4 linked regions of the Homo sapiens genome follow. The protein of the gene in region 3 purifies or fractionates together with the protein of the main gene of each other region. This does not show direct contact. Each region holds a gene or a part of one and is shown on either strand. Other genes may lie near its edges.

Region 1 (3,500 bases), on a different chromosome or scaffold from region 3:
AGTAGAGATGGGGTTTCACCTGTTGGCCAGGCTGGTCTCCAACTCCTGACCTCAAGTGATCCACCCGCCTCACCCTCCCAAGGTGCTGGGATTACAGGCGTGAGCCACTGTGCCTGGCCTATTTATTTATTTTATTTTTGAGACAGCGGGAGTATCTCCCAAGCTGGAGTACAATGGCGTGATCTTGGCTCACTGCAACCTCCACCTCCCGGGTTCAAGCAAGTCTTATGCGTCAGCCTCCTGAGTAGCTGGGATTATAGGCATGCGTGACCATGCCTGGCTAACTTTTGTATTTTTTAGTAGAGATGGGGTTTCACCATTTTGACCAGACTGGTCTCGAACTCCTGATCTCAAGTGATCTTCCTGCCTCGGCCTCCCAAATTGCTGGGATTACAGGCATGAGCCACTGCACCCAGCCTGAGCGCTCTTAGACCATAATTACTCAGCTGCCTCTGTTAACACACCACGTGTGTGAATCTAGGTATCTGTATTCCTGAATGAACACCAATGAGCGGAGCCCAGATCCCGAGATAACACATTTTAAACCTCTGCCAAAGCAGCCTCTCTTAACCCCCTTCCCTAGCTGTGGCTGAGAGAGGCCTTGGGACTGATACCCCAGCTCAGATCTTCTCCCCGCTGGGCAGGGAAAGCCAGTCTGGCCGGCACCCACCATCCTGCGTGCAGGCCCCCAGCAGGTTGATGATATTCTTATGCTTCCCGATCATCTTCATCATCTCCATTTCTGAGATCAGGTCTGACAAGTCTTTCTCTGTTGCGTCCGCTTTAAAGAACACGTTGAGACTCATTTACTTGGGAAGGGAGGAGGGCAGGATAAAGGCTAAGGGAGTGGGGTATGTGTCGAGGGGCTGCTTTTCCCTGGGACTTGATTCTCTCCTCCCCACTTCATCCAAACTTGTTTTCTCTTCCCTCTCATGGGAGCCGTTGTTGCAATAGGTGGTAGTGAGTGGGCAGGGATGTGGTGAGGAAAGCCTGCAAGCGATGGATCCAGGATAAACACCTGACCACAGCCCAGGTTGACGCCAAGGAACAGAGTGACGTCATAGAACAATCTCAAGGTGCAGAACACCCCCTCCACTCCCAGGTAACCCCAAGCAGGCAGCGGAGCAGGTGTGGGCAGCAAAGGCACCAGAGAAGCTGTTCTGCTGGGCCCGAGGCCTGCTGTTTGCTTGGAATGGGACAAGATTTTCTTTGCAAGGACAGAAGCATCACTTACACTTCAACATCTTCACAGCCACTTTGGTCACACGGTTGGGTTTGTCCTTGTCCAGCCCGATAGCCTCTGCCAACACCACCTGCCCAAAGCAGCCCTCTCCCAGGGGTTTGCCTAAGACCAGTCTTTCGGGGGAAACAGAGAGTGGCATAAGTTGGGGCTGGTGAAGTTCAAACCTTGAGAGGCACCCCATCTCCACCTCTCTGTATTTCACCCAACTGCGAGCAGAAAGTGGAATGAATGTTTCTGCAGGCATTTCATGAACCTTCACCGCCCAGAAGGTGTTAGTATACACACCTTCCACCACTAGAATAGCAAGCAAGGAATGCCTTCAAAAAGTTGGGAGTCAAAGTATTATTACCTGTCCCGAGGCAGCTCCCAGCGAGGGTCTTCGGGAAGCTCATACTCAGAGACCCCTGCTAGCATGGGAGTCCCACTGGAGGAGAGCCGTGATGGCCGAACCAGAAGAACCCCAGAGTTCATGGATGCACTGGAGTCAGCAGACACCTGCAAGGAAGAGTGGGGTCACCCTAGAGCAAGGAGGGGGGACGGGGTGACTCCTTCCCATTCTTAGTCAGGGCTTCCCAACAATGGCAGAGGCACATGTCTGTGTATCTGATGTTCTTTCCTCAACACAGAGTGGTCCAAAGACCATGGTAGGCCAGGAGGCCCAACTTCTAGGACTGACCTATTTCTGCCACAAGCTGGCCTTTCTGGACTTCACTCACCTTTAAAATAAGCAGACCAAATGCACCTCTTCCAGCTTGACATTTTATAACTGATCATTGCAGTAACAACTCTGTTCTCCTGACTCTTTGCAAATACTTTGCCTTAGCTTATGGATTCCTAACTCCCAAAGCACCTTCCAGAATGAGCACAGGCTTCTGAGGGAACGGTCATTCTTGCACACACCTGTGCCATCTGTACCATTTCCTCCCGTGGGGAAGGGTGGGCACACAGGGGACAAGGGTATGGTATGGCTGAGATGGTTTGGCTGTGTCCCCACCCAAATCTCATCTTGAATTCCCACGTGTTATGGGAGGGACCTGGTAGGAGGTCATTGACTCATGGGGGCAGGTCTTCCCTGTGCTGTTCTTGTGATAGTGAATAAATCTCACGAGATCTGATGATTTTATAAAGGGGAGTTTCCCTGTACAAGCTCTCTTCTCGTCTGCCGCCATGTGAGACGTGCCTTTTGCCTTCTGCAATTGTGAGGCCTCCCCAGCCACGTGGAACTGTGAGTCCATTAAACCTCTTTCTTTTGTAAATTGCCCGGTCTTGGGTATGTCTTTCTCAGCAGTGTGAAAATGGACTAATACAAACAGTTCTCTTCTCTACCCTGCATCTCTGCACTTCTAAGCAGCCCTTGGGGACAGTTCAAATTCATGCTATTGGCTGCACATTCTGTCCAAATAGGACTTCCTCCCAATCCATGTCCCAGGAGTCCGGAGGACTTGCAGTGTGATATGGAGGGTGCAGGAAATTCACGGGCTACACTAGCTTGAAACAGACTCTAGAGCACTTAGTTCATGATATTCCACTGTGCCTTGCCCAGAAGCCAGAAAATAAGGCCCAAAGCTATAAATTAGGGACAATGGAGAGGGCAGGGCATTAGAGGCCCAGAGAGAGAGGTGGTGCTGAGTGTGCAAATCCCCCATCTACTTTCTGTTACCTGTCTGCGCAGAGGGATGCTCTTGGCCAGCTTGTGCACAGCCATCTGGCTGTGGAAGTCACTCTTCTTGGTACCACTCTTCATCTTGTAGACGATGACCGACCCCACCATGCAGGAGATGAGGAAGGCCCCTGTGCAATAGATGATGATCTCCAGGTACAGGGGCGAGGTCATCACTGCCGGCCTCTCTTCCAGGGCTGAGTCAGTGCGAACAGGGTGTTAGCAGGCTTGGAGGGCCCCGTCCATGCGAGGTCCCGCTCCATTAGAAAAGCAACACCTGTCTCCTGTCCCCTGGGAACTTTTAGGGAGAAGAACCATGGCAAGTTCTAGCTAGGACTGGGATTGTGGCACTAGGAGGATCAGGCAACCCCCTGATTTTGGAGGCTGCCTTCAATGGACTTGAGCCATGGAAAAGGGATGGCCTAGAACCATCGTGCTACACAAGCCCCATCTTCATTAATTCCTGAGCCTCCTTGCTCAGCTGGACTGGAGAGGTACAGGCACCCAGGGATCCTGCAAGGGCCAGCTGAGAAGTCACTTCTATGTGCCTTTCTTGGTCTCCTCAGGGAGCCATGGCCCTTCTCTGCAAAGCCTCAG
Region 2 (3,500 bases), on a different chromosome or scaffold from region 3:
GCACATAGGGATGCTAATAAATGGTGAATATCAGTATTATCATTTTTAGTTCAACAAATAGTTATTGAGTACTTGCTCCATACAGGGACTTTATATGCATTACTTTTCACTCTCACAACAAGTTTGCAAAGTAGATATTCTCTTTATTTTATAGATGAGGAAACTGGAGTTTAAAGAGATTAAAAGACTTACCTAAGCTAAACAACTAATATGTACAGTACTATACTTATATTGGCAATTTCACACCAAAACAAGTACCTGGTCTGTTTTACTAGAACTGGAGCATCGTAAAGCCTTAATCTTACATATCTTTGACTTGACCTTTTTATGCCAGCCATATGATTCTCCCATCTCTAGATATTTTTTTTTTTTTTTTGAGATGGAGTGAGTTTTGTTCTTGTTGCCCAGGCTGGAATGCAACAGCATGATCTTGGCTCACTGCAACCTCTGCTTCCTGAGATAAAGCGATTCTCCTGCTTCAACCTCCCAAGTAGCTGTGACTACAGGCACCTGCCACCACATCTGGCTGATTTTTTTTTTTTTTTTTTTTTTGAGATGGAGTTTCGCTCTTTCACCCAGGCTGGAGTGCAGTGGCGCGATCTCGGCTCACTGCAACCTCCACCATCAAGCGATTCTCCTGCCTCAGCCACCACGCCTGGTGAATTTTTGTATTTTTAGTAGAGACGGGGTTTCACCATGTTGGCCAGGCTGGTCTTGGACTCCTGACCTCGTGATCCGCCCGCCTCCGCCTCCCAAAGTGCTGGGATTACAGGCGTGAGCCACCAGGCCCGGCCTGATTTTTGTATTATTAGTAGAGATGAAGTTTCACCATGTTGGCCAGGCCGGTCTTGAACTCCTGGCCTCAGGTGATCCGCTGGCCTCAGCCTCCCTAAGTACTGGGATTACAGGCGTGAGCCACTGAGCCCAGCCCCATCTCTAGATTTTTACTGAGACATAATTCACATACCATGCAAATCACATATTTAAAGTGTATAATCCAATGGTTTTCAGTGTATTTACATGTACTAAACTGATACAATCATCATCACAATCTAATTATACAAGAATTTTGTCACATCCCTCCAAAAAGAACCCAATATCTATTGAACAGCTGTAGATGTTTAAATAATAGTTGTCCAGGGGCTAGTGCTTTAGGAAGGTTTTTCCCTTAGATGACTGAAATACCATTTTATGTCTTCCTACAGTGATCTTTTAGAGCTATGCTATGTAATACTTTAAGGCTGGGAGACCTTACCATGTTTTTTAAAAAAATTGGGCCTGGCCCAATAAAGCTGGATTCTGGTTCTGCAAATACCAGAATAACACTTTACTTCACAAATATGCTAAATGATGGATTGGTAGGTTCCAGAGTACTGCTTTTCTTTTTTCTTTCTTTCTTTTTGTTTTTGAGGTGGAGTCTCGCTCTGTCGCCCAGGCTGGAGTGCAGTGGTGTGATCTGGGCTCACTGAAACTTCCACATCCTGGGTTCACTGATTCTCCCTCACTGATGCTTCCGCCTCAGCCTCTAGAGTAGCTGGGACTACAGGTATGCGCCACCATGCCCAGCTAATGTTTGCATTTTTAGTAGAGACGGGGTTTCACCATATTGGCCAGGCTGGTCTCAAACTCCTGATCTTATGATCCACCCACCTCAGCCTCCCAAAGCTGTGGTTTTCAAATTTGTCTGCACATTAGGATCAAGTGGGGACCTTCAAAAAATGATGCCTATGTCCCACCCCCAGAGACTGTGCTTTCATTTGTCGGGGTGTGGCCTGGGTTTCAGAATTTTTAAAAGGTCTCTAGGTGATTTTAATGTGCAACCAAGTTTGAAAACATTGTTCTAGGGAAAATGCCAGTTGCTTTCCAGGCTGACCAGAAGAGCGGCAGTTATTTCTTGCTGGCTTTCATGCTTTCTTAGCCTTTTCATATGTGCTTCTACTTTGTCATTTTTGGTTGTTCTCATATGTGTATTTCTAAGGTGTGTTTGAGATTTTAGGTGAGTGAGGAACTAATAAAAATAATTATAGTAATAGCTGATAATTTTTTTTTTTGAGACAGGGTCTCACTCTATTGCCATGGTTGAAGTGTAGTGGTGCAATCACAGCTGACTGTAGCTTCAACCTCCCAGGCTCAAGCAATTCTCCCACTTCAGCCTCCCAAGTAGCTGGTACCACAGGTGCATGCCAACACACCCAGCTAATGAAAACACATTTTTTTTTTTTTTTGTAGAGACAGGATCTCACTATGTCGCTCAGGCTGGTCTTGAACTGCTGGCCTCAAGCAATCCGCCTGCCTCAGCCTCCCAAAATGCTAGGAGCTGGCTAATAATTGTTTAACAGTTATGATATGCCAGGCACCATGCTAAACACTTTGCATACATTATATCATGCATGAATCTTATAAAACACTTATTATTCCCTTTTTGCATATGAGGAAGAGGCTTAGAAAGGAGATTGAGTAACTTGGCCACAGACTCCTAGTTGGTAAATGGTAGAACCTCATTTGACTAACTGCCAAATCCAAGAGTTGATAGCAATGATGCACTGAGTAACAAAATAACAGTGTTTCTCCTACAGTTGAGAGTATGTATAGGGTTCTCTCCAGGGCAAAGGCCTTGCAGTCACCTTGCATGGATACCATGCCTTGGATAGTATCCTTGCATACCACCCTGAATTAATGAATGCTTTACCTGTCTAAGGATATGAATTTATCTACCTTTCACATTGTGCATATACTTAAGAAAAATAAGGCTGGAAGGACAGGGACTAACACTGGAGGCACCAAAAAGACTCTCCTTTTGTAGTTTCTGGGATTGTTGTTGTTGTTGTTGTTATTGTTAAAGAGACATGGTTTCCCTATATTGCCTAGGCTGGAGTGCAGTGGCTATTCACAGATGTCATCCCACTACTGGATAGCACAGCAGTTTTGACCTTCTCCACTTCCAACCTGGGCCAGTTCACCCCTCTTTAGGCAACCTGATGGTCCTGCCCTCCCAAGAGGTCACTGTATTCATGCTGAACTTAGTGCAGACAGTGGATTGATCAATTGATCAGCATAGTGCACCACAGCCCAGAACTCCTGGGCTCAAGCAATCCTCCCACCTCAGGCACTGAGCAGCAAGAACTACAGGTGCACACCACTGAGTCTGGCTACTTTATGTTTTCTTGGGTTGCCTAGATTTATTTTTGAAATAAATTATTACTTTTATAATTAAAAATGGTTATCTTTGGGTTTGGAGATTATAGTTTTAATTTTTTAAATACTTTTCTGTATTTTCTGAATTTTCTAGCAAACATGCATTACTGTTATAAGGTAAAAATATTTTGTAAGCAGGGTGCACATCATTTCCAGTAGAATGCTTGAAATAAAATTTAAAGGATGCCTGGAATTTCATTTCATTCATAAAAAATTATCTGAGAATGAGGTACACGATCTGTATAAACAAAGGAAAATTATCAAAAAGCTATTAGTTTTAATACAAATGTCACAATCACTTGAAA
Region 3 (3,500 bases):
ATTCCTTCACACCCCCCCATTCCCCAGAGAGGGGTCCAGGCCTGGGCAACAGATGGCCACTGTCTGGGGGCAGGAAGGGCAGGGGACTGCACGGGAAGGGTGGGGCAGCCACTCCAGCCCCTTCCTCGTGGCAGCTTCCAGAGGTGGGGGTGAGATGTGGGCTTCATTCACCTCAGAGCCTGGCTCAGGCTGGCTCAGGGAAGACAGGAGAGGAAGGTGGGTTAGGTGTGAGCATGTGTGTGCAAGAGTGTGTGCATGAAGGTGCATGTGTGCCCACCAGAGGTGTGAGCGTGGTGCACATCTGTCTCCCCCTCCCGCCTGGTCCCACTGGACTGGGCCACCGCCACCTTCCCTGTGGCCAGCTCCAGGCCTGGCCCACCATGGCCGCTGCCCGAGAGAGTGAGTGAGCGAAGAAGGAAGGGTGGGCCCCTAACTGCCCCCCACTGAACCCAAGTCCCCACTCAGGGTGGGGCAGCCCAGCCCAGGCTAGGAGCCCAGGGGCTCTCAGCCCACCGAATCTCACTCCTGTGCTTTAACTGGGCGGGGCACCCTCAGCCTTGAGGTGAAACTCCCGTGACCCTCTGCGACTTGCCATGTCCCTAGGGCCAGACACCCACCCCCTAACAGCCAGATTCCCTGAACCAAAGCCAGGCCCCCTCTGGTCTGACCAGAGAGAAGTGGAATTGGATCCAAGACCCAAGATGCTATGTCGCTTGAGAGAGCTCAGTCCCTCGGATTTTGTCCCTAGGAATCCTGATGGGCAGGCTGGACCCTCCACTGCCACCACACCAGCTCCCGAGGCGGTCATTCGGTCCTGGCTGCACCCCTTTTTCCATTCATTCATCTGTTCACTCGCTCTGCCCTACACGAAGCCCCACCTCTGCGACCACTCAGAACCAGCCAGGTGTCCCCCAACACACCCTCCAGAGCAGCCCCGGGCACCCTCCTCACTCCCCTGAGCTCTCCTCTCCTCCTCAGCCCCTGGCTGACCTCCCCCAGGAAAAGCCCCTCCTGGTTCCAGCACCCGGCAGCATTTTTGAGGACATTTTCCCGAGCAGCATTTCCCAGGCGTCACGGGGGGTGGAGGGGTGGGGGGCAGCAGGAATGGTTCAAGAAGAGCAATTTGCTTCTGGAGATAAATGCCGGCTCCTCACGGAAGGCATTCCCTCCTTTCTTTTCTCTCTTCCTCTCTCGCTCATGCTTTTTTTTTTTTTTTTTTTTTTTTTTTTTTACAGTTTGCTAAATCTGTTGTAATCTGGTGCCAACGATTAATTCAGGCAGAAGGAGGGAAAGGGGCGTGAAAAAAATACTGCCACAGAGCTGCCTCTGGAGAGTGACGCGGGCAGGAATGGCCAGGACTAGCGCCCCGTGACCCCAGTTTTAATCCCAGTTTTAATTAAGTATAAGCCATCCCCAACCAGCCCGGCCACTGCCTCCCTGCCAGCCAGACAATAGACCCCGTCTGCCCATGAGGATGCCCTTTGACCCCTTGAAGCAGAGCCTGCCACACCTGGGGCCTGGCCGGACGTCGGATGCCTGGGTCCTGCGGTCTGCCTGGGAGGCAGTGTCCCCTAGTGGCTAGCTGAGCCCCATACAGCCGGGTCCGGGGCCCTCCAGGACACAGCCCCTTCACTCCCTTCTCCCTCTGCCTGCACCCCAGCCCACTTCCCTGCACCGGGAACATTCAGGGCTGGGGAGGGTTTCTGCGGACTCTCCTTCATCACTAATAGCTCTCGGTCCACCCAGGGCTACCGCCCCCGTCATAAACAAGCCCACATTTGTCTCACAGCCCATCAGATGCTGGGGCAACCTGTCTACGCAGGTGAACACACAGCTCTCGGGAAAAGGGGACCTGGCATCCCGGGCCTAGGAAGCCCACTCTTCCAGAGGCCCATCTGCAAGGACAGGCAGAGGGTCCCTGAGGCAGACCCAGGAATCCTGAGAGAGCTGGGGATGGATGGGCCACAGAGACCCAGGGAGACAGCCCACCAGCCCCAGCCCTGGCCGGGTGCCTTGAGCCCCTCTGCCCTCCTGCCGGGGGTCTCCATGCAGCCCTCTCCATCCATCCTGTCCTCCAGGCCCTTGTTTCTGTCCCTGCCCTTCCCTGGCTCCAGCTCACTCTTCATGTCTTAAGCACCCCCTTCCCTGGGAAGTCCCCCTCAATCCCACCCCTCAGCAGGCCCCTCTGTTACTTGACCTCACCACTTTGCGCCTTCAGAGCCAAGGCTTCACGGGGAAGAGGTAGATCTGACTAATGTCTGACACCACATCTGACTGGAAGCGCCCTGAGGGCAAGACACCCACTGCTTTTGTTCCCCACTTTTGTCCCAGAGCCCAGCACTGTGCCTGGCAATAACTAATGCTCAATGATTATCTCAAGAATGAATGAATGAATGAATGAATGAGCAGGAAAGGAGGGAAGGAGTGAGGGAAGGGAAAACAGAAGAGCCAGGGAGCCAGGCGTGCCAGAGGAGCACTGGTGGGCCAGCCCATTTATCCTCCATGGCTTCAGCCCCAAACTCCCACCCATCCTCCTCCCTGTCCTCTCCCCCACCCTCACTAGCCACCAGCTCTGCAGGTTGTCATTTTAAAACCCAGGGCTGCAGGAATCCAGCAAACAACCTCCACAAAGCAAGGAGAGGCCCCCAAACCCTGACATCATCTGCAGAGCCGCTGGCCCCGGGGAGCGGCAGTGCTCTGGGGGCCTCGAGCGATGGTAAACAGGCAAACACAGGCCTGCACAAACACAGCCTGCTCCATGGAACCCTCTTGGTGTCTCCAGCTGCTGCCAGAGAACTCCAGGCAGGCTGTCCGGGGGGAGGAGGGCAAAACAGGGGTGCTGTCCTTTTCCCGTCTCCTCCCGGCCATCCAGTCTGCCCCACACCACAGCCCTGGCCCTCTCAGGGTGAGTGTCCCATGGCAGAGGACAGAATGCAGCTGCCTCGTGGGCCAGCCAGAGCCTGAACTTTGTCTCCGGCAGAACAACACAGGTTCTGAGGAGGGACCCCCCGCTACCACCCGACCTCAAACACACTTGGAAGGCAGTACACCGGGGGCAGCAGCCAGGGCCTGGGGCCTGGGCCTCCCAGAGGCTGGCGCTCTCCTCTGCCAGTGAGCAGGGAAAGCTACCCCCGGGGCAGTCCCCACCCACCCCACTATAGGCAGTTAGCACCCTCGCCACACCCACGCCCCTTCTTGTCCACCCACGCTCGCTCACCCACATGCCTCACGCACCCCATCCTATAAGGGGCCTCAGCAAAAGCCCTCCAGCTCCCCCTTGCTCTGGGGCATTTCCCACTGCCCCTTGGGCCAGGTACCAGAGTGGATGGCCCCTGCCTGCAGGGGATGAGGGCCACCTCAGTCCTCCCTGCCACCCCAAGGCCTGAAGAAGCTGAAAGCCCTTGGCCCACAGTGAACGAGGGGTGTAGACTAGGCAAGGGCCCCACATTGCTAGGCATGAACTCTGCTAGAAACCTCATACGCATCCTCTCAACGTGGGT
Region 4 (3,500 bases), on a different chromosome or scaffold from region 3:
AAATTGTCTTATGACCAATGATTATCATTCCTACTTGTATACATTCAGCTATTTCATGGAAGTTTGTTCCATTGTTCAGGTGCAATTAAAATTAAATGACTAACTTGCTGAGTTGAAACCAGTTTCTAATTTTGCACTCTGGAAATGGTAAACACGTAATTTGTGTCCTTTGGTAATAATACATTCTGTGATTTAACAACCAAGTAACTCTGTTAACTTTTTTCCCTTAAGAGAAAGACTTAGTTGCTTAAATATATTTTCGTATAATTTTATTTGAAGGTACATACACATATGTTGCTTTTTTTTTCCTTCTAGTTGTACAGACTACGCCTCCACATGATCTGGCAGCAACCCAAATCCCTCCCGCTCCACCTTCCCCTTCAATTCAGGGTCAGAGTGTGTTGAGTTATAGCCCTTCTCGTTCGCCCAGTACCAGTCCCAAGTTCACCACCAGCTGTATGACTGGTTACAGCCCTCAGCTGCAAGGTCTGTCCTCAGGTGGCAGTGGTTCTTATAGCCCTGGAGTGACCTACTCGCCCGTCAGTGGTTATAATAAGGTAATGACTCTCTTCTCTTGTCTAGTCACATTATTTTAGAATTGAGAGGTATACTAAAAATCATCTAATGAGTCAAAACTTATCAGTGAGCAAACTGAGAGTTGATTTGCCCAGAACACCCATTTAAAAACCGAGAATAGAACATAATATCTTAAACACAACATCTTAAAATGAAAGAGAAAAAATTAGCATTTACAGAGATAACAAACTTAGTGCACCATCTACGATCTTTCAGCTGTCTTTAAAACAAGTTGAAACAAGGATAATTTTTTACTTTAGTTGCTTTTACTCCTGTTTTCCCTCTTGCTTTCCTTCTTCATGTGAGGCCTTTGTATACCTTTTTAGAGTTTTAGTGTGGTTTATCATGTTGGAGTGTCTTCTAAGCTAAAAGCTGAGATTGTCACATAGTTTCTTTTTTTTTTCCAATGAGTACAAATGATTCTTGAATATGGACGCTTTCCATGGAATAGTAGGAACCTTCATTTCCACTCCCACAGTAATGTGAAATTTTGTTCTAATTTTTAGGATTAATAGAAACAGGATTGACAAATTGAAATTTTGACTCCTTCTTGAAGCATAAAACTATTAATATAAGGGGGCGTTGAAAGAAGAGTGGTCATTTCAGATGCTGTCGCTACTGTGTTCGACTAACATCTCTGTAGCTGCTAGTTAAAAGAGGAGTCTCTGGAGATGAAACTGACACATTGTCTGCCCTTATCCATTTACATATTTCTTTTTTTTTTTTTTTTTTTTTTTTTTTTGAGACAGAGTCTCGCTCTGTTGCCTAGACTGGAGTGCAGTGGCGTGATCTCAGCTCACTGCAAACTCCGCCTCCCGGGCTCATGCCATTCTCCTGCCTCAGCCTCCCGAGTAGCTGGGACTACAGGCGTCCACCACCGTGCCCGGCTAATTTTTTGTACTTTCAGTAGAGACGGGGTTTCGCCATGTTAGCCAGGATGGTCTCGATCTCCTGACCTTGCGATCTGCCCTCCTCGACCTCCCAAACATTTACACATTTCTTTGTAATGAAATTCCATACTACTGGTTATCCAATATTAAAATTAATTTTGGCAGGTAATAGAATTTTGAAAATTTTGTACAAGTTAAATTTTTATGAGAAAGTATATATGTAGTGAAAATTAATAACTCATAGGTAAATGTGACTTTTAAAAATAATTTTTCACAAGATGATACTATATGATCCTTATAGAAAATTGGAAAAGTAAAACAGAAGGAAAATTATTATAGTCCTGCCACACAAAAATAATCTGTTTAATGGCTATTTAATACTCATCTAATGGATATACCATAATTTACTCTTGAATGTTTAAGTCATTTTCATTTATAAAAAAACTTTTTAATGTATACTAAATAGCCCTGTACATAAAATTATTGATAAATTTGGGATGGGAGTGTCGATCCAAAAGAATTGTACCAATTTACATTGTCACAGAAATGTAGAAGAGTGTTTGTTTTACCACACTGTTGACCATCAAGTTAATTTTTTAAAAAAATAAATCTCTGCTAATAAGAAACATGACAATAGTCTATCGTAACTTTTAACATACATTTATTTCAAAGCCGCATAGCTAAATCAGGAAGTTCTCGTGCTTTACTCGCTTGTCTTTTGGGTCTGTATCCTCTGATTTTTTTTCTTGGGTTGCTGTTTAATTATAGAGTTTAATATATATATATATAGAGAGAGAGAAACTTTAAATGTTTAATAGTCCTATCTGTTTATCTCCTTGTGGTTTGCTCTGTTTTTAAATTTAGAAATTTTCTTACTTTCAGAATTGATTCCCCTCCCCACCATAATATAAGATGATAATTTTCTCATTTTTGTTTTTTGCTAAAATTGATAACTAGTTGTCCCAATATTATAAATTATTTTTACCTTGATTGACTTGGAGCCTCCTTTGAATTACATGTGATTTGTCTTTTTCGGGGTGATTCTGTTCACTTGCTGTGTTTTTAGTGCTGTGTGTAGCAGTTTCATTGTGGACTGACTGTTAGAAGAGTTAACAAAAAATGTTAAATACTATTGCATTTTTGCTTCAAAAACAGATAAATCATAGCTTATGTTCTATTTGTACAAAAGAAGTGACACCACCAAAATATAATTTTTATTTTTAAAGAAATAATTTTTTTCTTATGTTAACTCTCCCTTTGTACCCACTCTTTTCCAGTCATTTCTTCTGCCTTGTACATCTTTGTATTTATAAGTTAGAGGGAAAAAATAATGAGTTGAGTTTTTTTTACCTTAGTAATCTTTCTTTTTTTAAAATCTTAAAAGATATGTCAGGAAATTATCAAAAGAAAGTAAAGGTGACGGCTGGGCGCAGCGGGTCACGCCTGTAATCCCAGCACTTTGGGAGGCCGAGGCAGGCGGGTCACAAGGTCAGGAGATCAAGACCATCCTGGCTAACATGTTGAAACCCTGTCTCTACTAAACAAAATACAAAAAATTAGCCAGGTGTGGTGGCGGGCGCCTGTAGTCGCAGCTACTCGGGAGGCTGAGGCAGGAGAATGGCGTGAACCAGGAAGGCGGAGCTTTCAGTGAGCCGAGATGGCTCGCTGCACTCCAGCCTGGGCGACACAGCAAGACTCTGTCTCAAAAAAAAAATAAAAAAATTAAAAAGGTGACAAAGGCATATCAGGAAAGCATAAAAATAAGGTGGTAGTATTAACAATGAATAACTTTAGAGGAGGAAGAATTATATGAGACAAAAGGTCATTTTAAGTTGATGGAAGAAATAATAAAATAATAGTTAGATTCACAATCCCTGTATATTGAATAATACAGCATCATAAAATGTAAAACAAAAACCTTTAGAAACATGAAATCAATAAACACAATTGTATTGGAAGACTTTAGCATTATCAATGTCTGATAAAGTAGGCAACAAATAAGGACACAAAAGATTGGAACAGTAAAATTTAATA

Evidence for each region. Proteins that work in one complex are often made in the same cells at the same time.
Region 1: the proteins of FLRT1 (region 3) and FGFR1 purify together in Homo sapiens (affinity purification with western blotting; 2 studies listed by BioGRID and IntAct, with this or other methods). This does not show direct contact.
Region 2: the proteins of FLRT1 (region 3) and PCDHGC3 purify together in Homo sapiens (affinity purification with mass spectrometry; 2 studies listed by BioGRID and IntAct, with this or other methods). This does not show direct contact.
Region 4: the proteins of FLRT1 (region 3) and TMEM209 purify together in Homo sapiens (affinity purification with mass spectrometry; one large-scale study listed by BioGRID and IntAct). This does not show direct contact.

Annotation. Positions count from the first base shown.
Region 1 is NC_000008.11:38,416,636-38,420,135, forward strand, and holds part of FGFR1 (fibroblast growth factor receptor 1 isoform 1 precursor), read right to left. Parts: intron 3,101-3,500; coding exon 2,898-3,100; intron 1,739-2,897; coding exon 1,593-1,738; intron 1,357-1,592; coding exon 1,235-1,356; intron 782-1,234; coding exon 671-781; intron 1-670. UniProt on the Homo sapiens protein: Tyrosine-protein kinase that acts as a cell-surface receptor for fibroblast growth factors and plays an essential role in the regulation of embryonic development, cell proliferation, differentiation and migration.
Region 2 is NC_000005.10:141,478,966-141,482,465, reverse strand, and holds part of PCDHGC3 (protocadherin gamma-C3 isoform 1 precursor), read right to left. Parts: intron 1-3,500. UniProt on the Homo sapiens protein: Potential calcium-dependent cell-adhesion protein. May be involved in the establishment and maintenance of specific neuronal connections in the brain.
Region 3 is NC_000011.10:64,038,931-64,042,430, reverse strand, and holds part of FLRT1 (leucine-rich repeat transmembrane protein FLRT1), read right to left. Parts: intron 1-3,500.
Region 4 is NC_000007.14:130,198,907-130,202,406, reverse strand, and holds part of TMEM209 (transmembrane protein 209), read left to right. Parts: intron 1-315; coding exon 316-557; intron 558-2,110; exon of another isoform or gene 2,111-2,563; intron 2,564-3,500. UniProt on the Homo sapiens protein: Nuclear envelope protein which in association with NUP205, may be involved in nuclear transport of various nuclear proteins in addition to MYC.